7 linked regions of the Homo sapiens genome follow. The protein of the gene in region 3 purifies or fractionates together with the protein of the main gene of each other region. This does not show direct contact. Each region holds a gene or a part of one and is shown on either strand. Other genes may lie near its edges.

Region 1 (3,500 bases), on a different chromosome or scaffold from region 3:
TCTCCTGAGGAGCCTCTGGTGCCATCTCACTGCCTACCTAATGCTCTGAAACGGAAATGAGTGTGGCAAATCTCTGGTTAATAGACCCACTCTCCCAGGATTAGTGAGAAGGCTGGAAGCAGGCGGGCTCTGTCTCCTGCTGAGACACCCCTCTCCTCAGAGGGTAATGGAAGGTCAGCCCCGGCAGGGTCCACTGCCCACGGCTCAGCAAGAACCCCCCAAGGCAGGGCCTGGGATTGTCCCTCAGCCAGGAACGCAGGCACCTGATCCTCCGGCAAAGCTGGGGCCCCTCAGAGGCTGTGCAGACGACAGGCTCCCCATAGCCTTGCGGACATCCTTACCCCCACTGCAGTGCGCCTCCCAGCCTCCCTTCACACAGCTCCTTGTCTTCCTGCTGCTGCCAGGCCTCCCAGGAGGGAAGCAGACAGAGGAGCCTCTTGGACACATCCGGTGGGGGGCACACTGAGGGGTGCTGGCTGAGGGAGTGGGGTCTGGGCACCAGGATCCAGTGGGCAACCACATTGAGGGGTGCTGGCGGAGGGTGTGGGGATCTGGGCACCAGGATCCAGTGGGGAACCACACTGAGGGGTGCTGGCGGAGGGTGTGGGGGTCTGGACACCAGGAAACAGGACTCCAGGGCTCTTCTGGAGCCGGGGCCTGGGAGCAGTTCCGGGAAGAGCCTTGGACTGCTGCCTCCCAGCCAGTGAGTCCCTCAGAGCACAGTGGGAGGAGCGGCAGGGCTGCAGAGGCTGGAGCCACTCACAGGGGCAGGGCCTGTACCGGCTCCAGGCTGAGGGTCCTCTGAGCCCCTGGGCAGGAATCCTGCCCTACCCCTCATGGGCTCTGCCTCAACAATGTCCCTTCCCTCCCTCAAGCTTAAGATCTGTGTGGGGACGCTGCCCCAGGTGGGCAGAGCCTGGACCTGCAGCTCCTTTGCCCACAGCAGCAATGGGATGAAAGTGCCATGGCTGCTGCAGGGGACACCATGCAGCCTGAGCTCAGGCCCGGGCTCTTAAAGCCCAACCAGAACTACTTCAGGTGGTGGGGGCGGGGGAGCCGATTCCAGAACCCACGGCTCACACAGAAGGCTGAAGGGCTGGACAGCTGCCATAGGGCTCTGCTGTCCAGGCACCCGCGGTGGAGACCGCACCATCCTCGCTCGTTGCAACCAGTGGAGTGAGAGGAGTCCACCTGTCCTGAGCATGTCGAGGACGCCCCCTACCAACATCCTGGGGAGCAGTACTGTCCCCCTGCTATCTTTTGCGGGGCAGTCGCCCACTTTGGCAGAACAGGGAAGGTAGCTGTTTCGGTGAGTTGGCAGGGCTGCTTGGGCAGGACCAAGGAAGGGCCATTCCTCAGGGCTGTGGTCAGTCCAGTCCAGGCCAGGTGGGGGAGCCATGGCACTTCCTATCACTCCCTCCGTTCCTGGTCATGTGGCCCACAGGGAGTGGGAACCCGCGAGGGTCATGGGTGGGCTGGGCTCTGATGTGGCAAAAGGAGGCGTGAGGGAGTGCTGTGGCCGCCTCCCGGTGGAGTGGACTGCTACAAAGCCTGGGGGCCTGGGAGGCATTCCCCAGAGGCCGCCATGGCGGTCCACACCACGGGTCCTGGCCGTGCTCAGGGACACCCCCAGGAAGGCTCCCCGAAGCTCAGTGAGGAGTTTCTGCTTGTGTCCAAGCTCAACCTGCTGTCACCATCTGGGCCATCTTTCTCTTGCCAAGACCTCATGAATGAGGGTCCTCGAGTTCCTCTGACCGCCCAAGGGAGGCATCAGGCCTGGCGCAGCAATGCGCTCGGAGCCGGCTGCCTGCCACAGGCTGCTTCCACTTTTCTGTTCGGAGCCGGCTGCCTGCCACAGGCTGCTTCCACTTCTCTGAGCAGGTGTCCATCTTTTGTGCAGCCCCGTCCCCACCCCAGGCACAGGGACTGTGGAAGGAAGGCCCTCCCCAAACCCCTGGTCTTTCCTCCAGCCTCCTTCAAACACCAGGGCCAGGAGGAGGGCCACCCACCACCACCTGTGCCCACTCACACGCGCTTCTGGCTTAGCAGCTGGTTCCAGACCTCCACCACGAAGCCATCGAAATGCTGGTTCTGAAAGAAGCAGTCACAGGTGAGGAGGGCCTGGAGGCCCAGGAGGGATGGGTGGAAAGACAAGAAGCCCGCCACCTCGGCCCACATGGTCAGGTTGTGGCCTGGTCACTCACGAGGCAAGACCCAAGCCTGGGCTGTATGCCCAGAAGGGCCTGTCTGAAGGAGGAAGTGTGGGGGTCCCAGAGGAACAGGAGTGGAGGGGCCAGTGGTCTCGTGCATTCTGCCGACCCATGCACCTCCCCCAACCCCACCCCGGGGGTCTGGGGGCTCCCTGACCCGAGGCCCAGGCATACTGGCAGCCAGCAGGGCTGGGTCCCCTCCCAGGAGGGTAGCAGGCAGCTGGGCTTTGCCCAAGGGAAGAACCCTGGCCCAGCAGACAGGTCTCCCATGCCTGGGACCTCCAGAGGACCCATGGTCAAGAAAGCGAGCAGCAGCCTGAGCCTGGCTGATGCTGCCTTCCCTGGAAGATGGGGGCTGCACCAGAAGGTGCCCAGGGCAGAAGACAGAAAAGCCGAGTGGAGGCCTCGCGGGAGGCCCAGCCAGACGGCCAGGTGGGACCCGGGGGGCTGTGCTCAGAGGCTGGAGCAGCACACAGGTCTCACCTTTGCCACCTGGACCACGGTCTTGCTCAGCTCCTCTATCTCATCCTCACTGTCTAAGACGTTCCGGAAATCATCGTAAGTCCAGTCCTCAAACAGGAGCCGAGGCACTGCAGGGGCAACAGACACACACGGGGGCCGTGACTGGGAGATGCTGGAGGGCCCCTGCTGTTTGCTGCCTCAAAAAGGCATCCCCTTGGCCTCCAGAGGGAAGTGAGACCAGACAGTGAGGGGCAGGGAGGCCACCTGGAGCACCCACATGTCCAGAGAGGATGTCCCAGAGCCTCACAGGCTGGAGAGGGAGGGGTGGTGGGGAAGGAGCGAGCAGACACTGACAGTCCTGGTCCCCTGACACCAGCTCCCCACACGGCTCAGCATGGTTGTGGCCCCACCTTACAGGAGGGAGGCTGGGACAGACTCTGGCTGCTCCAGCTCAGCCCTGTCACCTGCTTCTAGCATCCCCCAGAGTCTCTCCCTTGGCAACTTGTGCTCTTAATCCACTGCCTCTGAGGCTGCTACTGGACGTGGGGACACATGTCCCCCCTTCCCCAGCCGTGAGCTACAGGGGCACAGATGGGCCAGGGTCAGCATCACCCTCAGGCCAAGCCCAGGGCTTGGCCCCAGCTGCCCTGATAGGACTCATCATGTGAATGAAGGAAGAAATGGGATTGAGAACAATTAGGGCAATGCCACTGGCCAAGGAGGTGCTGGCTTTGGAGGGCCACAGCCTGTGTGGGGAGGAGAGCTCAGGACTCCAGCCAGACTAAGGGCTGTGAATGCCAGGCCAGGGCCAGCCTCATCTCTGAGCGG
Region 2 (3,500 bases), on a different chromosome or scaffold from region 3:
GACACAATATTTTATAGAGGAAAGAAAAATGCCTTATCATAAAATTATTTTGGTACTAAACTAACTCTGAGTCCAAAGATGACTTGCCTTGTACTGAATCCCATTCCTTGGGATAATGGGCTTTTGTTGGGTTCTAGTGGAATGGTTTGAAAGTAATGTTAAAATGGTGGATGTGAAAGACTCTACCAACATTTTTACCAAATGTATATTTATTTGTAATCTATTATATTTATTTGTTGAATAATTTGCATGTATATCTTGATTAAACTACTCATGGAAAATCATAATGCCTTTTTTTCAAGATTTCAAAGCACTTACAGTCTGTTAATTCTGAATGTAGGTAGTTATATAGCATCAATATTAAGCCTCCTTTAAACTAAGACATCAGAGTACCGTCATACTTCTCTTGCTCCTCTTTGTCAATCCATGGGAAAATGAGAATGTTCTTCAGGACTTCGGTTTCTCAAGATGCTTCTCAGACTGGTCAGTGCTTTTCTGGCCTTAAAAATGTATATCTGTTGTTTTGTAAATACTCTAAACATTTTCTGTGACTAGATAAAACATATCCTCTTTACATATTCATGCCATTTGCCAGTAGAGGAAGGAAGCATAGCTTGAAACTTACTACGTTGCTGTTGGTGTTGGGCTTCCTGAGTTCAAATCCTGGTCCCACCACCTACCTGGTGTATGTTTTTTAAAATGGAACCATCTGGCTCACTAGCAGGAAACTAGGGTTAGAGTCCCAAGTGCTATTTTTTAAATTATTTTCCAATAATTCTCCTTCTCTTTGATCATCTTAGAGGCTGTTCGCAGTATTAGAACAGAGATTACTTTTGCAGTTTCATCCCTTTCATAGGGAGCATAGAATACTTATACATGTGACCATATTCTGAAACATTGCCCACTATTCAAACCAAGGTAATTATTATTACCTGAAACATGTAACATTGGCCTTTCATTAATGCAATTTCAAATTTAAATTGATAAATACAATGTATTATCCAATGCAGGAAATGTGAATAAGCTCCTCGTTTTGTTTTTTCTAGGTGAAGATGCCAGATGTGGAGCTCTTTGTTAATTTGGGAGACTGGCCTTTGGAAAAAAAGAAATCCAATTCAAACATCCATCCGATCTTTTCCTGGTGTGGCTCCACAGATTCCAAGGATATCGTGATGCCTACGTACGATTTGACTGATTCTGTTCTGGAAACCATGGGCCGGTGAGAGATAAGTCAGGGTTGGCCCAGAGCCTTGGTTTTCTTTCTTTGGTGAGTTCTTTTGCAACAACCTTTGTGATATGATGATTTGGGAGGAAAATCTGTTGCACTTTGTCTTCTAGGGTAAGTCTGGATATGATGTCCGTGCAAGCTAACACGGGTCCTCCCTGGGAAAGCAAAAATTCCACTGCCGTCTGGAGAGGGCGAGACAGCCGCAAAGAGAGACTCGAGCTGGTTAAACTCAGTAGAAAACACCCAGAACTCATAGACGCTGCTTTCACCAACTTTTTCTTCTTTAAACACGATGAAAACCTGTATGGTCCCATTGTGAAACATATTTCATTTTTTGATTTCTTCAAGGTATGACTTAATCAGTAGCTAATCTTTTTTGTTTTTCTAATGTATTTGTACATAGTGCTTTGGGAAGGGAAATTAAGGCCTGCAAATTTCAAGAGGTGGGAGAAGTTAGCACAAAATTGAGCGAATATTGAGACATGGGGGTGCTGGGGACTGTTTTGGCAACCAGGGTCTGCCCTCACTGCCCAGTCTTGATATTAAATGCGCATCAAGGGAGTTTGGAGCCTGGATAGAGCTATAATTTTTTTCCAGCTAACCCTTGAGATAAGCACATGTCACCTCCAAATATGTTTTTATTAATACTTACATGTAAGTCATTTTACAAATACTTTTTCCCAGAGCCATGTTATCACAACAGAATAAGGAAGATATAAACTACTTGTTTCTTACCAGGCCTTCTGGTGGGGAATGACGTGAAACTCATCCAAATGTTCTGTCTGGGAATTAGGGTTTGCTTTCTCTGTCTAGAATGTGGATTCCGCATGGTTCCTGGGGAGTAGTCCTTTTTCTAACAACTCCTTTTATAAGGCAGTGGGCACCACCCTGCTCTTTAGACCATGGAGTTGTTTCTGAAGTCCCCCATGGTAGAGAGAGAGGTGGGAAAAAGGTCATCATCTGTCCTCTGTATGTGGGAAGACAAGTGATTAACGAGTTCTGTCTGCCCTGTAGATGACCAAATTTTCTTTTGATGGGTTTTGTTGAGGCAGGTTGACCTAAATGTTAACCTTGTTCAATGTTAAAGTTGAATTGTCAGTATTTTTCTATATGCATATCCCAAAGATTTTTGAAAGAAATGATTATAACCAAAGTGAAAGGATACTAGCCAACCTTCCTCAGTGGAGGGGTGCTCCATCCTGCCTTGGCTTTATTCCTGCCTGTTGAATTTTCTGCAACTAAAGATGATAGATTACCACAGTTCTATGAATATTTTTATTCATAGGTGTTCTTGCTCCAGAGCTTGCTAATTTCTTTAAGACATATGTCTGGGTGTTTAAAAAATACGGTTAGCCAGGCGTGATGGCTCACGCCTGTAATCCTAGCACTTTGGGAGGCTGAGGCAGGCAGATCACCTGAGTTCCAGGGTTCGAGACCAGCCTGGCCAACATGGTGAAACCGCATCTCTACTAAAAATACAAAAATTAGCTGGGCGTGGTGGTGCGTGCCTCTAATGCCAGCGACTGGGGATGCTGAGGCACAAGAATCACTTGATCCCAGGAGGTGGAAGTTGCAGTGAGCTGAGATCACGCCACTACACTCCAGCCTGAGTGACAGAGCAAGACTCTGTCTCAAAATAAATACATAAATAATACGGTTAACATGGCTCAGAATATGCCATCATTAGGGGCACATTTGCAATCAATAAAGTAGCAGGAGAATTACAAAAAGTCACAAATGAATCCATCCTTCCTTATGTTGCAGCCTTAGGACAGCAGTATGATTGTATTCGCTGCTTCAACACTAGATTTGTATCCTTTGTAAAATTGAGAAGCACATCAAAATGAGCATTTAGCTCTAGATCAACCTGTTGTTTAATAACACTTACTAAACGGCAAAGGCAGAGCGTGGAAGCTGACCAAATTGTGTCTGAGGATTGCAAAGGTTTATGTGTGGGATGGGAAGGAGAATAGAGTGGAGAAAAGGAGATTTAATAGAGGTTCTTAGACTTTACCATTGTTTTGCAGCATAAGTATCAAATAAATATCGATGGCACTGTAGCAGCTTATCGCCTGCCATATTTGCTAGTTGGTGACAGTGTTGTGCTGAAGCAGGATTCCATCTACTATGAACATTTTTACAATGAGCTGCAGCCCTGGAAACACTACATTCCAGTTAAGAGCAACCTGAGCGATCTGCTAGAAAAACTTAAATGGGCGAAAGATCACGATGAAGAGGTAAGGTTAGTCCCCTTGAAGGCTTATTTCCACTT
Region 3 (4,031 bases):
GTGGTTCCTCACCAGTTCTTACCAGTTTGGGTTTCCCAGTAATGATAGGCTGGTCCCTTTTTACAAGGAGCAGGAGTTGCTTTTGCAAACAGAAGGGGAAGAAAAGAAGAAGAAATAGCCCAGTAAATCCTTTAAGTTCACAATGGCCGGACCCTGCTTTAGTGAAACCATGTGTACTAGTGAGTTCTCTGTCAATATATACTCAATATCTGCACCAGGGAGTGCCTGGGTATGGAAAAAGGGGTGGGGTTGGGCACGGTGACACATGCACTTTAGACTTTGGTGTCCCGGGTTTCTAGGTCCCGAGGCTCTGTCATGGATGACTAATTGTATGTCATCCATGCCAGCCCTACCCCATTGCAGGAACTGCCTGGGGCACCTATGTGAGACTGGAAAGGGGCCCCTGAATAACACCAGCCCTGGCCCAGTGGAGTCTCAAAGGGCATCTTTGGGCTCACTCCATAGATGGGGAAACAGGCTGGGAAGCCAGGCCGTGCATCGCAGTTCAACCTCAGACCCTTCCCACAATCCAGGAGTGATGGGGGAACTGAGGTCTCCTGGGCCCCTCCTCTGGGGACTTCCTGGACCCCCACACCTTCAGGCTGGTCAGAGCTCTTCTCCAAGTCTTGTACTTAGAGCTCAGAAATATTCATGATATTATTTCTGTGTGCAAAGATACATGCTATAAATGATAACATAATGAGCTGCATAATTAGGACTAGGATCAATATGCCAGGTCCTGTGTGCAGCCTGGCCACCATCTGTCCATCTAAACTCTATATGTGTGCTGAGAAGTAGGGCTGCATTAGCTCCATTTTTATGGATAGGAAAATTGAGGCACAGAGAGGCCTAGAAATCCACCTAAGAAAGGTTGGGTGGGAGCCTAGTTCCTGTCTTTAACTCCCAGCTGATGAGATTTCCTTTAGTTTGCCACGTTGGTAGTGACCTCACCATCATGAGGAGCAATCAAGGCAAGCCAGATTCCCACCAGGAAGAGGGTCCACAATAGGCATCCTCCCTGGCTCATGGGGTTGGGGGAGTGAGCAAATTCCTGCTTGCTCTGGGCCTCAGAGGCTGGTGGCAGGAGGAAATGTCACTCAGTGAGCCCTTACTTGCTCCTCCTGGGCTGACCTGGCTTGTCTGGATTCCTGAACTCTGGCCTGGAACAGAGAAGCACCAAGGCCCCCTTTTGGTTCTCCCACACCCAGAGCACCTGCCAGGAAATGCCACACCCTAGGGGTGAGAGTGAGGGAGGGTGTCCAGGCTGGACTGAGCAAACACCCAACTGCTCACCTAGGCCATATGGGGGCCCAGCTGCCTGACCTGGGGGCCACACCTCTTCCTCCTGACACCAGCCCTGCCTGGTGTCACCTTGAGAACAGGCCAGTGGGAGGAAGTGATGGCCCCCAGGGCTGGCCCCAGACCTAGACGGCCAGGTGGCTTCCCATGGGCCCTGAATCCCAGATCTGGACTGCAGGAGTCCCCCGCCCAAGTTGAGGGGCGACCTCAGTTTCCTCTTGAGAAGTGTCCATTTAAAAAAATCAGAGCTGGGCATAGTGGCTCATGCCTGAAATCCCAGCACTTTCAGATGCCAAGGCAGGAGGATTGCTTGGGCCCAGGAGTTTGAGACCAGCCTGGACAACATAGTGAGACCCCGTCTCCACACACAAAAAAATTTTAAAATTAGCTGCCTGTGGTGTGCACCTGTAGTCCCAGCTACTCGGGAGGCTGAGGTGGGAGGATCACTTGAGCCCAGGAGGTTGAGGCTGCAGTGAATACAGTGCATGGAGCCACTGTACTCCAGCCTGGGTGACAAAGTGAGTCCCCCACCTCTACAAATAAAACAAACAAACAAAAAGTTTAAATCTGACCCAGAGGAAAAGATGGTCGGGATTCTTGGAACAGGAGTGAATCTGAACAGTGGCTACAGACATAATTAATATAATTATGATGACAGCTGACTGTCCCTGGGCACCCACTGAGTGGCCACAGCTCCTATCCACTCAACTCATCCTCGCCAAGGTCCCATGCCATGAGACCCCCCCTTAACACACAGGGAAACTGAGGCTCAGAGACCTAACGCCAGTCACGCAAGGGCCCCCAGTGGCCAGCAGTACACCTCATCACAAAAATTTCCTTTGACTAAACGCTTCGGGCATCCTCATCCCAGCTGGTTCATTGTTCCACCTCACGGAGGGGAAACTGAGGCCGGTTCAGCAATGTGTCCATGCCACGCAGCCAGGGCCCCTGGAATGCCGCCCAGCCACCTGGCAGGGCCTGCAGCACCGGAACCGCAGGGAGAGACTGGGGGTCACCTGCAGTTCCCAAACCCAACCGGGGACCCCAGCGCTGGCTTGCCCAGATACTCCCAACCAAGGGGCCAATAATCTCAACAACACAGGTAACAGTAACAGCCAAGTCTGACTAAGCGGCATCCGCCTCGGGGGTCTGATCCCGCCCAATCTGGGAGGGGCGCCGGGGTCCCGGGTCGCCAGCTGTGGGGGAGGCTTCCTCCCCGACCCAGGTCCGAGCTGGCCTTGGGAACGCCGGAGACAATTACGGATGGGTGAGGGCAACCGGGTTCTCGAGACTCGGGGCTCCCGAATGTTCCCACATCTGCAGGGTATGCGCGGTGGAGACCGGCAGGGGCTTCTCCAGAGCCACAACTTCCCCACCCCCAAACCCCCACCACTGGGGTCCGCCAGATCCTCCGGGGGCTGCCGACACTCACCCCCAGACGACAGTCCCGCCTCTGCCCCTCTACCTGCTCCTCTCAGCTCGCGAGCCGAAGAAAGAGTTTTTACCTGAGCCAGAGCTCCCGCCCCTCTCCCGCTTCCTCCCTCCCACCGGGCCTCACGCCTTCCTGCCTCCCTCCGCCTTGGCCGCTTGCCAGTCCCCCTCTTCCCAGCTCGGCTGAGTTTCCTGGTGGCCCAGGCGAAGTTCTCTGCCGGCTCCTCCCTCCCCGGCCATGCCTCTTCCCCTCTCCGGTCCCGGCTGCCACCTCTGCCATCCCGCTCTTGCCACCCTCGCCCCTCTCGGGGCTCACGACCCCACCTTGGGTCTGGCCCGCTGCTAGGGAATGAGCTCCCCGTGGCTGGAGATGAACAAGCAGCGCCTTGCGGGTTCCTGGCACAGAGCCCGGTCAGCGTTGGCCCACGTGTGTTCCGTGAAGAAATGATTGGATAAGCCCATGGCGATAAGGAGGGAGGGAGGCAGGTTAAACCTTGCGGCACCTCTGCTCTCTGCGGGGAGTTCAAAGATTCCTGAAGCTGGGGTCGGCGCAGTGGCTCACTCCTGTACTTCCAGAGGCCGAGGGGGGCGGATCGCTGGAACCCAGGAGTTTGAGACCAGCCTGGGCAACATAGTGAGATTCCATCTCTATATTGAAAATAATTCCAGGACCCGAAAACCTACGATGTGCCCCCAGACATCCAGATGCCACCTGCTGGCATTTGGAAGGGTTCTGGAAGTCAACAATCAGACAGATTTGTAGTCTTTTCTTTTTCTTTTTTTCTTGTTTTGAGAGACAGGATCTCGCTTTGTCACCCAGGCTAGAGTACAGTGGTGTGATCTCCGCTCGCTACAATGTCGACCTCCCCAGTTCAAGCAATCCTCCCACCTCAGCCTCCCGAGTAGCTGGGACTACAGGCACCCGCCAGCATGCCTGGCTAATTTTTGTCATTTTTCTAGATATGGGGTTTTGATATGTTGCCCAGGCTGGTCTTAACTGTGGGCCTCAAGTGACCTTCCTGCCTCAGATCCCCAAGGTGCTGGATTATAGATGTGAGCCACTGCACCTGGCCTCAGATTTGTAGATTTTTAGGGTTGGGTTGGCTAGGATTCGAACCCTGCCCTGTGCTGCCTCTGAATCTCTAGGAGATTCTAGCCTGGACCCAGCGTTGGGAGCTCTGGGGTTGGGGAAGTCCAGGTGTGTGAGCTGGGCTATGGTTTCAGGAAACCCCTCCTTCCTCCTTCATCCCTGTTTCTTCCCGAGGAGGAAGCCGAGGTGTATATGTGGCCTGTCTGTGCCT
Region 4 (3,500 bases), on a different chromosome or scaffold from region 3:
TGACTTCTGTATTTTTCATTAGGAACTCTACAAACTTTACATTTCTGATTGTTGCTATATGTTTCATGTTCAACTGTTTTAGAAACTGATGGTAAATAACAGATATATGCCTCTAGAGTTAAGTACAAGGTTGATTTTGTCAGCAAAACAGGTTTTCAGTAGGTGACTGATGTCATTGAGGTTCACTTTAAAGATCTACTCAAAAATATGTCCCAAATAGAGAAGTGCTTGAGGCTTATATATCATCTTGATATGTGACACTATTTCTAAACTATTTATAAGGAAACAACTTTCTTGCAAAAATCAGAAACCTATACACAGATTTAGATTCAAGTACATTTTTAGTTATTGAGCTCAAGGAAAAGGAGCATATACGAATAACAAAAAGTTGGTAATTGTTATCCCAATCAAATTTAAAAAACATAAATTGCATTCTTCAACAAAATATCCAAAAAGAGTAACTGATACTTAAAGTACATCATTTCAGATTATAGTTACTTTGCCATATGACATATTTGAAGTGAACATCAGTCTGCACACAGGAAATTTCTTTTCATTCTATCCCCATGCAGTGCATGCAGCTAAATATAGTTTGTGGAAAGCGACCTGCTTTACAATGCTTAGCACTTAGAATTCAGTAAGTCCAAAGGGAGTATTAACTGTTAATAGGAAAGGTGGTTAGCTGTGGCAAAAGAAGACCTGGCAAATCCATCATAAAAAAAAAATTATGAAGGAACATACTGAATTACCTCATTATTCTATCACCTATTGTTGTTCCTCTGATATTAAATCTAGTGAAGGGAACACAATAACTGAAATCACTTACAAAGACTTCAAAGAACCAAATATTTAAAGCATTAAGGACACCCTTTTTATCATCAATCATCTCAATTTAAAAAAAAACTTTTGTTTCCCTTTGTGACTTCGGGCATTAAGCAAGGAATATGTCAGTCAACTAAATGTATATGAAGAAATTAAGGAAACAGAAACACTCATTGAAGCTAGAATAGAAGGAAGACATTGCACTTAATCCCTTTTATCTTTTAAATAAATCAGAACCCAATCCTGTCACAGTATGGGAAACTGCACTGGCTTATAATGAATACCATCCTCTGGAACACGTACATGCTCCTCAAAGCTGAGGAGCTCTTTGGAAAATAAATAATTAAGCCCTAAGCTAATTCACTTGGCCTAACCACAAGACTATATAACAAATGAGCAAAGAATAACAGGGCTTTTAACTCCCTAGGAGTCCAGTTCTTTCTCTTTGAGTACATCTTTTCTCTCTGCAATTTTCTTTAATAAAGAGTAAACTGCAATAATGAGAAATAAGGAAATCATGGTTACAATGATGACTGAATAAATGCTGCCAAATTTACAGTACAAGGAATTTTGGCTTTAAAAGTGAGGGCTATGCTCCATGGTCCAGAGTAGGTATATGGAACCAAATTTCTATGAAAATAACACTTTAAAAGTTATTAAAGGGCAATATAGGATAAATCACTCTTTAGGGAAAAAATTGTTAGATCATCCTAACTGAGGCTATAATTAAAAACTATTCAAGACTATGTGAGGACTTATTCAGGAAGCTTTCTTAGATGCTTGTTTTTTTTTTTCAGAGAGTAATTTAGGTTTTCTCTTGAGTTTAGAAACAGTAAGAGCTACCAATCAGGCCGTCAAATCACTTACAACAGATTTGGCATTGTAAAAAAAAAAAAAAATTATACAGCCTGGGTGCGGTGGCTCATGCCGGTAATCCCAGCACTTTGGGAGGCTGAGGCAGGCGGATCACGAGGTCAGGAGATCGAGATCATCCTGGCTAACACGGTGAAACCCCGTATCTACTAAAAATACAAAAAATTAGCTGGGCGTGGTGGCAGGCGCCTGTAGTCCCAGCTACTTGGGAGGCTGAGGCAGGAGAATGGCGTGAACCTGGGAGGCAGAGCTTGCAGTGAGCCAAGATTGCCCCACTGCACTCCAGCCTGGGTGAGGGAGCGAGACTCCGTCTCCAAAAAAAAAAAAAAAAAAAAAAAAAATTATATGCAGATTATCTAAACAGAGATCTCAACCACACTCTTTTCATTCCAAGGGCATATATTTACGTTTCTTAACCCAGTATATGGCCAGGCGCGGTGGCTCACGCCTATAGTCCCCCAGCACTTTGGGAGGCTGAGGCTTGAGGCCAGGAGTTCAAGACCAGCCTGGTCAACATAGTGAGACTGTCTCTTCTAAAAAAAAAAAAAAAAAAAAACAACAACAACAACAACAACAAATTAGCAGAGTGCAGCAACATGCACCTGTAATCCCAGCTACTTGGGAGACTGAGGGAGGAAGATCGCTTGAGCCCAGGAGTATGAGGTTGCAGTGAGCTATGATCATACCACTGCACTCCAGCCTGGGCAACAGGGCAAGACCCTGTCTCAAAAAAATAAAACAAAATGAAATAAATACAGTATATAAAATCACTAAAAGATACACATACTATTTTTTTGCTTTGTTTTGCTTTTTTCCTAAGTCAGACTTATTTTTGACATTAGGACTAATTTTATTTTTTTAAACACCATGATTAGAGAACAAACATTTCTTTCTGTCTTTTTTCAATTTATTTCCCATTTACTGTTCCATGTTCTTGCCTTACGCAAAGTTAAAGGGAACCCAAATATGTGGAGATTCATATTATTTCATTGTTTCAAAGTCTGGATTTTTGCCAGTAGAGGCATTTTACCACAGACTATAGTTTGATTTCTCTCTATAACACTGATTACTATAGAGCAGGTATTTGCAAGCTATGGCTCTTGGGCTAGATCTCCGCCAAATGCCGATTTTTGAAATGAACCTTAGGCTAAGAATAGTTTTTACATTTTTAAATGTTAATATTTTAAATGGTCATATAAGTACCTACCATAATGGTCTCCATTTTGTCTCCTGGCCAACAAAGCCAAAATATTTACTATATGGCTCTTTAGGAGTAAGTCTGCTGCTCTGCTATAGACTCCCAGTTACATTTACATAGACTTGCTGTAGTTAATGAGAAGAGCATTCCATTTAAAAATATCTATGTTAGTTGTTAAGGTCTTCATTTTCTAAGACATTTCCTTCTCATGCTTGATCTCAGCCCAAAAGTGAAAACCTGGGTCATTTATTTAACCAAATTATAAGAATGTAAATATTTTTTTAAAAATCATTACTCTGTATTGCAAGGAACTGTTCTGATATTTTCAGTAAATTTGTCAGAAATGACTTAGCTATAAAGCCTTTTAAAGTTTCCTTTTAAAAATTAAATTTGGAACAAAAACTGATGAGGTCCACTATATAGTTCTTCATATAAAGTACAGATCAAATTAAGTATACACTTGTATAATATTTAATTTTAGGACCACTTCTCTACCCCAGCTAAACTAATATTGACTGGGCTTTGCAAATGGCAGCATGGAGGGAACTTTAAGACATACATCCTTTTAGGTGGGCATTTCATCCATGTGTGCAATGTATCCTTGGAC
Region 5 (3,500 bases), on a different chromosome or scaffold from region 3:
AGACAAGTATATGAAGAGCAGCCCCATTTTCCACACAAGGAAGTCAGGCCCCAGAGAAGGTGGAGAATGTGTCAGTCCCTCAGCCTGGAGGGCCAGGAGCTAGCATGTGGACATCTGTCTGTCTGTCCTGAAGGCTGTATGCCGCACCCAGCCCTCTGCTCCCAGCAACCCCTGCATGCGCATGGAAGGCTGTCTGCAGGTGGGGGCGATTGCCGCTGGCCCAGACCAGCCAGATGTAGAACACTAGGGCTTCTGAGACCTGGGCAGACATGGGCAGTTTCACATGTAGGCCTGTGTCGTTGCGTTTACTGGAAGACACCTGGCAGCCTTCACTCAGAGCAGAAGGACAGGCATCATGCCTGGGCTCTGGGCTCTGCAAAGGTAGTGCTGGCAAGGCTGCCTGAGAGTCGGCCCCTGGCAGCAGAGACTGCCCATGGCGGTGCTTGGCTCCTGGCGCAGTGTGGCCACCCCTTCTGCCACCTCCCCCATAAGATTGGGCTGTTTTCAGGTACTCCTCTGGTCCTGCACCACCGATGCCACCACCGGCCCAGGGAGGATCAGCCCTGCAGGAGGCAGTGCTGTGAGCCTGTGTGGGTGCAGGTGGGTCTAGGCCATCCCTCTGCTCCAGTGTCCTTGCTCTGCCCCAGTGAATGCTGGAGGGTGAGGAGATGGGAAACCCAGGAGTCTCCCCAACCCCTCAGCTTCCCTCTCTGGGTGCCATCACCATCCCATGTGGCATTTTGTGGGGCTGCATACCCCCTCTATGAAAGACTGTGGGGTGTTTCTAGGTCAGACCTCAAGCATCACGGAGGCAGCAGGACTGGGCTCAATCCCCACTTGGTGGTAGCGTGTGGTGGGTCTTTGGGTTTGAGGCGGGAAGAGCATGAGAAGCCGAGCTCTGGGGAGCAGTTACTGAGTGGTAGCATGTGGGGCCCAGTCAGATGGGAGCCCCACTGGAAGGGCTGCATGATTCAGGCGGGAGGCAGACTCGGGCCATCCCCTGCCAGCACTTTTCGGGCACTTCTCTGCAGCCACCTGGACACTCACTGGCACCTGCTCTCCTCTCCTTGAGGCCCACTCCACAGCAGTATTTATAGGTGAGGTGACATTTTGTTTGCAAGAAGGTTTTCATCTCTTAAGACTGTTCTTGCCTTCTCAGAAACTCAGTTGGCTCTGTGAAGATTTGCTGTCTGTTTTGGGTTTGGGTGGGGTATGTTATGCTGAAAAAAATAGTCCTAGACCTAGGGGATGAGGTTGCTCCAGCCAAATGACAGTGAGCTGGTGGTAGCCAGAGGTGTGGGCTGCAGTGCCCTGAGGGAGTGGAAAAGCCTCCCACACACAGGGTTTTGCAGGATGAGCGGGGTGTGGAGTGGAAGCAGCACTCAGAAAGCACAGTTGGGTTTCAGACACATCATGCGAGACCCCGCCACTCACAGCAAGGGGGGGCAGTGGAGATGGGACGGCATGAGTGGAGAGGGGCCCCTGCAAGCAGGCCAGTTGCTTTCTGACTGTGGGACTTGTGGCCTAATCTCTTTGTTCCTTTCCTGAAAGTGCCCCTTTCCTGATAGGGCATTGTCCCAAGTCCCCAGCTTGCAAGGGATGTTGTTTTGGAAAAACATGGCAGGTACACGCCCACACAGGAGTGTTCAAGTGCTGATCCCAGACCACCCAACCCAGGGTGGAGGCTGTTAGAGGACATTTAGGATCCACAGGTGGGCAGAGGGAGGATGTCCAGCCACCAGAGACCACACACATCCTACCCCAGCCGTGGTGAAGATGGGGCTGTTTTCCTTGACCATGGAGCAAAAACCATCCAGGACAGCTCTCCCCCTCCATGCCACCAGTTGCTCCTGAGCCAGCTCTGTGGGTGCTGGGAGCTGCGCTAAGGATTTGCACCTGTCCCCACCAGCTTGTGGCCTTCTGCTGCCGCGGTGCCTCTGCCCTGAACTCCCTCTAGGGCTCAGGACCTTTGGGGCCTCACACCTACCCCACTGTTGGTCCTTGATTCCTTGACTCACACAGCGTGTGGTCTGGGGCTGGGGCTGGGGCCCAGCTCACTGCGGGGGGATGCCTGTGGGGGTGACACGCCGCAAGTTCCACGGGGCCACCTCGGGAGGTCTTGGGTCCTCTCTGTGCAGACCAGGCGCTGAGGCTGCGGTGGAGGGCAGGGAATCCATAGGGATTCAGCTGCCTGCTCAGGCCCTGGGCTGTGTGTTGGGTGGGCTTCTGGAAAGCTCTGCTGGGAGTCCAAGGAAGAGAGGAGTGCCCTGGGCAGCCCCTCCTACCTTGTGGCTGGAGCCGGTGGGTCTCATGGGCCCAGATAGATACCTGTCTGAGCCTCAGTCTTCCCATCTCTAAAAGGGGGGTGGCAGTCTGCCATTTGGTTCTGTAGAGGAACCAGTGACTTATTAACTGTGACCGTGGTGACCGCATGATCCCTCAGCCACGGACTGTGTCCATGTCTTATGGGAGCCATGGCCACTCATAACCCCTTAGCATTCTGCAGCCTAGTGCAGGCCCAGTTCCTCATCTGGAGAGCGAGCCGTCAGCAGCTGTCCGCGTGCCATGGGGAGACTGACCGCGGGGCCAGGGCTTCAGTGAGAGGCAGCTCCCGACAGCCTGCACCTGGCCTGCCTTTGAAGGCCACACGTGACCAGCACAGCTGCCTAGGATTATTTACACAGAGAACGTTAAAAGGCCCAACAGGAGGGCCATCAGAGCAAATCACTAATTGTCTGGAAAGATACAAACTGGAGAGATTGAAACTCTGGAGTTAATTGTTTACGAAGCTTTGAAGGCCACAGAGGTCAGTGGCCGTGGGTGACCGCCCCCGGTGGTCATGGGCAGGGGCAGGGGCCTGTTATCTCCCTGTGACAGGGCCTCCTGCTGGGGCAGGCCTGGTCCTTGTCCAGGATCCCAGCTGTTCCCTAGGAGGGGCTCTCCACTGGTCAGCCCAGGCCGCTGCTCAGAAGCTGTATCAGGTGGACATCTCTGGGGCCAGCCCAGTTTGCATTCTAGCTCTGGCCCCATTCCTGCCTGGAGAAGTTGGGAACATTCAACCTCATTTTCTTTTCCCACCTCACGGAGTGGTAGGAGATGAGAGTTCACTCTGTAAGCTCCACACTATCCTTCACCCTCCACAGCAAACTAGGACAGAAGGTTCTATGGGTAACCCAGCAACAAGGAGGGCAGGTGAGGCTGGCCAAGACCCACCTCGGGGCTGGGAAACCCCGGGACCATACCAGGGGTGTCAGCAGAGCAAAAGAGAGGCCCCAGGCTTGCAGTCAGACCAGCTGGGCCAAATCCTGGCTTTGCATCTCACAGGCTTCTGCAGCTCAGGTTCCCCATCTGTAAAATGGGCATACTCATAGTGCCTGTGCAGGAGGTAGACAGTTGGAATTATACCCACAGTTCCACTGTGGCCTCTGTACTATAAGAGGCTAGAATCTGACCCATCTGTCCTGGAGACAGGGAAGAGACCTCCAGAGCCAGCTAGGAAG
Region 6 (2,432 bases), on a different chromosome or scaffold from region 3:
ACTGCCTACCCATCTGTTCACAACATGGGACAAAGAGCCGTGCACCTCTCCTGAGTTCTAAGCAGCAGTTACCAAACCCAGGGACAAAAACGTTCACTCCAGCTCTGCCCACTGTGAGAAACACATCAGACAATCGCAACTGAGGAACGTCCTACAAAACATGAGACCAATCCTCAAAACTGCCAGAGCCCTCAAAACAAGGGAGGTCTGAGGAACTGTCACCCCAGAGGAGCCTAAGAAGATGGGCGATCAAACGCCATGTGGACTCCCAAGACCGGAAAGGACACTGGGGAGACTCAGCACATCTGAATCACGTGTGGACCCAACACCGCGGGTCGGCGGGGGCTCCTCAGGTGGGAGGACTGCCCCATGGGGGCCTCCACGGGAGCGAGGCAGGGTGGCAGGGAGCTCTCTGCACCGCGCCTGCAACTTTTCTACATCTAACACTATAATCAGCGTGGGGCTGTGGCTCACGCCTGTAATCCCAACACTTGGGGAGGCCGAGGCAGGCGGATCACCTGAGGTCAGGAGTTCAAGACCAGCCTGGCCAATGTGGTAAAACCCCACCTCTACTAAAAATACAAAAATTAGCTGGGCATGGTGACGCGTGCCTGTAATCCCAGACACTTGGGAGGCTGAGACAGGAGAATGCTTGAACTGGGGAGGTGGAGGTGGCAGTAAGCTGAGATTGCACCACTGCACTCCAGCCTCGTGACAGAGAGAGACTCCATCTCAAAAAAAAAAAAAAAAGAAAAGCCGAGTGTGTTGGTGCATGCCTGCAGTCGCAGCTACTCGGGAGGCTGAGGCAGGAGAATCACTGGAACCCGGGAGGCAGAGGTTGCAGTGAGCCAAGATGTCGCCATCGCACTCCAGCCTGGGTGACAGAGCAAGACTTTGTCTCAAAAAAAAAAAGAAAAAAAAATTCCTACTCTAAAATTAAAGCTTTGTTTTAAAAAAATGTTCAAGAAAAAAGTGTAAGACTTGGGAAAAGATTAAACAAAACTGACAAAACATTGGTAATTGCTAATGGCAGGAAGAGGCACAGGAGACTGTGGCAGCCTTCTTTCTACCTCGGGGGAACACACTTGACGAGTTCAGGATAAAAAGTATGGAACACGTAAGTTTCAGTTGAGCTGGGTAGAATTCACATCGGTCAGAGTGTTCTCTGTACTCTGTGTGCCTTGGAAATACTTCACGAGAGGGGTGGGGACCGTGGGTGCTGTGTGGACACTGTGTGACGCCGTAGCCCCCACGCCTGGCCAGGGCCTCACCGCCTGCAACTTGTCCAGGTTGTCCTGCAGCACCTTCTCGGTGTGTCTGTAGGCCTTGGCCACCAGCAGTCTTGCTTCCTGTGAGTGGAGGGAACTGTGTCAGGGGCAAGGCTGGCCGCCTGGCTCCAGCACCAAAGCACAGAAAAGAAATGGCAGACTGGGAACACGGCCTTTCCCCTCCCAGGAGGAACAGGACTCCTCAGCCGACAGGTGGTCTCCTGCCCCTGTGACCAGTGCCAGGAAAGCAGGGCTCCGCATGCCAGCCCACCCACCCACACCCACCCACAGCTGCCTCACAGGCACACATCGGCCCTTCCTGGCCCAGTCTGAAGGACATGTGGGCCCTGGGTCTATTGCTCGGTGTATTTATTTGATATTCTTCCCAGATTCACATCTATAATTTCATTAGGAGCATCTATGTCCTCATTTGAGAAGAAAATACTCCACAGGTGGGAACTACAGCAGAGCCCAGAAGGAAGAAACCCAGGTGGGGCCTGCAGCTGAGCTCCGCTGGGGCGGCCGTGGGCGACCCTTGTGTGGTAGACCCAGGGACTCCCTCCCCGGGGAGCACAGAGGGCAGCGGTGTGGCCAGAGCCGACTCACATGGTCCATCATCTGCTGCAGGCCTTGGCTGAAGGGGCGCCGCCCGATGCCCATGAGGCCCTCCTGCGCCTCAGGGAAGGAGATGGGCCCGATGCCAGGTGCCATCCCAAACTGCTTCACCATGGAGTAGGCGATGCGGGTGACCTTCCTCAGGTCGTCCTGTGCCCCTGGAGGGCGGGGTCGAGACAGAGGCATCCTCAGCACTGCAGGCGCAGAGCAGTGCTGGGCCCCAGGTGTCCCGGTCAGAGCACTGAGGCAGCACCACCTCCATCCCCTTCCTCCCGAGGACCCACCGTGAAGCTGGACAGTGAGGACGTTGGCACCTCACCACTGTTCCTTAAGAGAGTCTTAAAACTTTCCGAAATGCTCTTTTATTTGGAAATCTAGAACCCGGGGGCATACTGGAGCTCACTGCATGGCAGTTCTCAAGCACAAGCCCAGGCCTATGCGAGGCAAACCCATGGACCTGGAGCCCAGGGGCCCCCGGGACCCTCCTTCAGCTCTCTGGATATCCCAGTGCAGTAATGGCTTCAGAACAATGAAGCCGCTTCAATTTTA
Region 7 (3,500 bases), on a different chromosome or scaffold from region 3:
GAATATAAAGATGAGGTAGAAGGGGCTAGATAGTCACAAAATAAATAATCAGCTTAAGTTGACTCTGCATATATATTGAGGGGTAAGTTTGGAAACCCTGAGTCTGGACTGTGTTCTTGAAATAAGTATCATTTATTGCATTTTTAAAATAGCCACACTACTGAGGACATGTTTTCTTTGGCGTTGTCTCTTTCAGATCTTAAATGCTGCCTATCATGTTGAAGTCACGTTTCACTCAGGGTCGTCAGTTACAAGGATGCTATGGGAGCAAATCAAACAGGTAGGGATTATTACTTAGAGAAAGATTTCAAAGCCCCTAGTTGGCTCAAATGAATCATAGTGACCCCAGTAGGAAACAGATATCTAGGATCTTCTGTTAAGGCAGGGTGACCATTTGTTCTGGTTTGCCTGCCTGGGAGAATTCTGGTTTATGCCTATTCTTAAATAATTATTAACATTGTTCCCTTGAACTCTCAGAAGTTTTGGGTTTAAATGATTTTTATGTTGGGTGCTCTTTGTGGACAATGGAAAAATAGAAAAAAAAGATAAATGATATTTCATGGAGCCATAAGACTCTACCACACTAGCTTCTTCATATTTCTTTTTCCCAGCCTAAATCTTTTCTCAGAACTAGGCTTTGTTGTTGCCAGAGGCTGTGAATGTGGTTTCTGTTCTGGAATTTGATCTGGCTCTTATGTAGAGTTATTTACTGACTTCAGAAAGATTATCAGGCACTCCCTGGCACTGAATGTAATATATTGAGGGTTTGTGAGCATGTAGACTAGGCCTGGTGTTCTTTGATGCTTTTCTCTGGGCTAGGACCTGATTTTGTGGTAGATGGAATTGGAAAGGAACTTTGGACTTCGTATGGCTCCCATCTTATGAGCCTGCTCTTAATGAATGGGTAACCCAGAAAAGGAAGGACACTGGATCTTTGTAGTGGTTCTTGTCTCTCATTCCTTGGTGATCTCGCTGTCTTCATCCTGGTAGATCATCCAGCGCATCACATGGGTGAGCCCACCTGCCATCACTCTGGAATGGAAGAGGAAGGTGGCCCAGGAAGCCATTGAGAGCCTCAGCGCCTCCAAATTGGCTAAGAGCATTTGCAGCCAATTCCGGACTCGGCTCAATAGTTCCCACGAGGCTTTTGCAGCCTCCTTGCGGCAGGTTGGTATGTAGGAAAGGAGATACAGCTGGATCAAGCAGAGAAGAGCCTCATCCAGATGGGAATATTTCGCTCTCCGCTCTTCATATATAATATGTGTGTGTGTCTGTGTGTGTATACATATATATACACATATATATACACACACACACATATGTATATTAAAATCATCAGTATATTTTCTTTCTAGATTGTTATAGGAAGTTTTTTCAATAAATTTTTCATGTGGATATTTTCCTAACTCTCGGGAGAATGGAGTGAGCTCAGTTAATTCCTGCCCATTTCAGAGTGAGGAAAGATAATAGGAGTAGGAATTTTGTATGTTTATATAGTATTTTAGGAACAAATGACAGAAGGACATGACTTTCCAACTTCTATATTTCATAATTGTTTGACATCTGATTGTCCACTGGCGGGGAGTGGGTGTGTCCAGGCAGAGAGTGGATAGATGTGAGTATGCATCCAGGAGGAAAAGTTATTATTTATTGAGAGTCTACTCTGTGCCAGTCTCTGTGCTAAACATGTTACATGTATCTTGTTTAATTCTCACAATTATCTATATGAAGTAGATATTATTATCCCTGTATAACAGGTGAGGAAGCTGAAGCTAGGGACTTAAGTCATATGTACTTTTTCTGTTTCTCTCCCAGCTGGAAGCTGGCCACTCAGGCCGGTTAGAGAAAACGGAAGATCTATGGCTGAGGGTTCGGAAAGATCATGCTCCCCGCCTGGCCCGCCTTTCTCTGGAAAGCTGTTCTTTACAGGATGTCTTGCTTCATCGTGAGTCTGGTTTTCTTCTAGATAAACTGGAGGATGGTTCAGGATACCTGACATTCTTATGTCCAGCCTCAGAGAATCCTAGTGTCTAAAGCTGCTTCTTTGCAAAGCTGCCTAAACCCTTACTGATGTTTTTGAATTCCTAAAGTCTCTTCCTGCTATTTATATAGTTCAAATAACATGACCAGGCCAGGTGTGGTGGCTCACACCTGTAATCTTAGTACTTTGGGAGGCTGAGGTGGGTGGACTGCCTGAGCTCAGAAGTTCAAGACCAGCCTAGGCGATATGGCAAGACCCCATCTCTACTAAAAAAATTAGCTGGGCGTGGTGGCACTTTGCAACCCCAGCTCCTCAGGAGGCTCAGGCAGAAGATTCACTTGAACCCAGGAAGTAGAGGTTGCAGTGAGCCAAGATCATACCACTGCACTGCAGCCTGGGTGACAGAGCAAGACTCTGTCTCCAAAAAAAAAAACAACAAAAAACAAAAAACCACATAACCACAGTTTATTTGAATTAAACCAGTTAGATTATTTTCTATTGGGTTAGAATGACACTAGAATTTTATCCCTGGGCTTGATTACAGCTTCCTGACCCTAAAGGCAGGTTCACAATGAAGAATGTTACAGGGCCAGCATGGTGGCTTATGCCTGTAATCCCAGTACTTTGGGAGGCCACGGTGGGTGGATCACTTGAGCCCAGGAGTTCGGGACCACCCTGGGCAATGTGGCAAAACCCCGTCTCTAATAAAACTGTAAAAATTAGCTGTGCGTGGTGGCGTATGCCTGTAATCCCAACTACTTGGGAGCCTGAGGCAGAATAATCGCTTGAACCCAGGAGGCAGAGGTTGCAGTGAGCAGAGATCATGCCACTGCACTCCTGCTTGGGTGACAGAACAAGACTCTGTCTCAAAAAAAAAAAAAAAGAATCTTACAGAGGTTGCCCACGAAGTTCCCATTCCTCCTGCCTTATCTCTGTCTCTGTACCTTATAGGTAAACCTAAACTGGGACAGGAACTGGGCCGGGGCCAGTATGGTGTGGTATACCTGTGTGACAACTGGGGAGGACACTTCCCTTGTGCCCTCAAATCAGTTGTCCCTCCAGATGAGAAGCACTGGAATGATCTGGCTTTGGAATTTCACTATATGAGGTGGGTCCTGGCCTCATTCATCTCTATGAGAAAGATCCAGAGAAGAATCTAGAACCCTGGTTTAGATTTTGTACCAAGAGCTACAGCATGGCCTCTCTATATTTAGTTTTCTGTGTCTAACAGACATGTGCTCCCTTTCAGGCCTTTACTGTCTTTGCTTGCTCTTTCCCCACCATCCTAATTTCTCAGACTCATCATTCCATTTAACTTTCTTCTTTAGTCCTTAAGCCTTATCAGTTTTTAGAATCCAGGATTCTTCATCCTTGTTGAAGAGGCCATGCTCTGTCTGTACTGAGGGCTCTGTCTGCACTGAGGGCCATTACCTCTGGACCTGTCCTAAGCATGGTCTGGAAATTATTGTCTCATACATTGTGGCATGGCATGCAGGATTAGAGCCCAAGCCTTGTAGCC

Evidence for each region.
Region 1: the proteins of B3GNT3 (region 3) and CHID1 purify together in Homo sapiens (affinity purification with mass spectrometry; one large-scale study listed by BioGRID and IntAct). This does not show direct contact.
Region 2: the proteins of B3GNT3 (region 3) and POGLUT2 purify together in Homo sapiens (affinity purification with mass spectrometry; 2 studies listed by BioGRID and IntAct, with this or other methods). This does not show direct contact.
Region 4: the proteins of B3GNT3 (region 3) and DCAF6 purify together in Homo sapiens (affinity purification with mass spectrometry; one large-scale study listed by BioGRID and IntAct). This does not show direct contact.
Region 5: the proteins of B3GNT3 (region 3) and HS6ST1 purify together in Homo sapiens (affinity purification with mass spectrometry; 3 studies listed by BioGRID and IntAct, with this or other methods). This does not show direct contact.
Region 6: the proteins of B3GNT3 (region 3) and SPG7 purify together in Homo sapiens (affinity purification with mass spectrometry; one large-scale study listed by BioGRID and IntAct). This does not show direct contact.
Region 7: the proteins of B3GNT3 (region 3) and DSTYK purify together in Homo sapiens (affinity purification with mass spectrometry, with the first as the bait; one large-scale study listed by BioGRID). This does not show direct contact.

What each region holds. Positions count from the first base shown.
Region 1 is NC_000011.10:897,311-900,810, forward strand, and holds part of CHID1 (chitinase domain-containing protein 1 isoform a precursor), read right to left. Parts: intron 2,801-3,500; coding exon 2,694-2,800; intron 2,092-2,693; coding exon 2,030-2,091; intron 1-2,029.
Region 2 is NC_000013.11:102,788,977-102,792,476, reverse strand, and holds part of POGLUT2 (protein O-glucosyltransferase 2 isoform 1 precursor), read left to right. Parts: intron 1-340; exon of another isoform or gene 341-468; coding exon of another isoform or gene 469-483; intron 484-1,046; coding exon 1,047-1,219; intron 1,220-1,338; coding exon 1,339-1,576; intron 1,577-3,255; coding exon 3,256-3,465; intron 3,466-3,500. UniProt on the Homo sapiens protein: Protein glucosyltransferase that catalyzes the transfer of glucose from UDP-glucose to a serine residue within the consensus sequence peptide C-X-N-T-X-G-S-F-X-C. Can also catalyze the transfer of xylose from UDP-xylose but less efficiently.
Region 3 is NC_000019.10:17,793,907-17,797,937, reverse strand, and holds the start of B3GNT3 (N-acetyllactosaminide beta-1,3-N-acetylglucosaminyltransferase 3), read right to left. Parts: upstream 2,801-4,031; 5' UTR 2,732-2,800; exon of another isoform or gene 23-2,731; intron 1-22. UniProt on the Homo sapiens protein: Beta-1,3-N-acetylglucosaminyltransferase involved in the synthesis of poly-N-acetyllactosamine. Has activity for type 2 oligosaccharides.
Region 4 is NC_000001.11:168,048,183-168,051,682, reverse strand, and holds part of DCAF6 (DDB1- and CUL4-associated factor 6), read right to left. Parts: intron 792-3,500; coding exon 750-791; intron 1-749. UniProt on the Homo sapiens protein: Ligand-dependent coactivator of nuclear receptors. Enhance transcriptional activity of the nuclear receptors NR3C1 and AR. May function as a substrate receptor for CUL4-DDB1 E3 ubiquitin-protein ligase complex.
Region 5 is NC_000002.12:128,308,869-128,312,368, reverse strand, and holds part of HS6ST1 (heparan-sulfate 6-O-sulfotransferase 1), read left to right. Parts: intron 1-3,500. UniProt on the Homo sapiens protein: 6-O-sulfation enzyme which catalyzes the transfer of sulfate from 3'-phosphoadenosine 5'-phosphosulfate (PAPS) to position 6 of the N-sulfoglucosamine residue (GlcNS) of heparan sulfate.
Region 6 is NC_000016.10:89,553,403-89,555,834, reverse strand, and holds part of SPG7 (mitochondrial inner membrane m-AAA protease component paraplegin isoform 1 precursor), read right to left. Parts: intron 2,042-2,432; coding exon 1,875-2,041; intron 1,350-1,874; coding exon 1,272-1,349; intron 1-1,271. UniProt on the Homo sapiens protein: Catalytic component of the m-AAA protease, a protease that plays a key role in proteostasis of inner mitochondrial membrane proteins, and which is essential for axonal and neuron development.
Region 7 is NC_000001.11:205,159,703-205,163,202, reverse strand, and holds part of DSTYK (dual serine/threonine and tyrosine protein kinase), read left to right. Parts: intron 1-196; coding exon 197-280; intron 281-990; coding exon 991-1,167; intron 1,168-1,815; coding exon 1,816-1,945; intron 1,946-2,932; coding exon 2,933-3,089; intron 3,090-3,500. UniProt on the Homo sapiens protein: Acts as a positive regulator of ERK phosphorylation downstream of fibroblast growth factor-receptor activation. Involved in the regulation of both caspase-dependent apoptosis and caspase-independent cell death.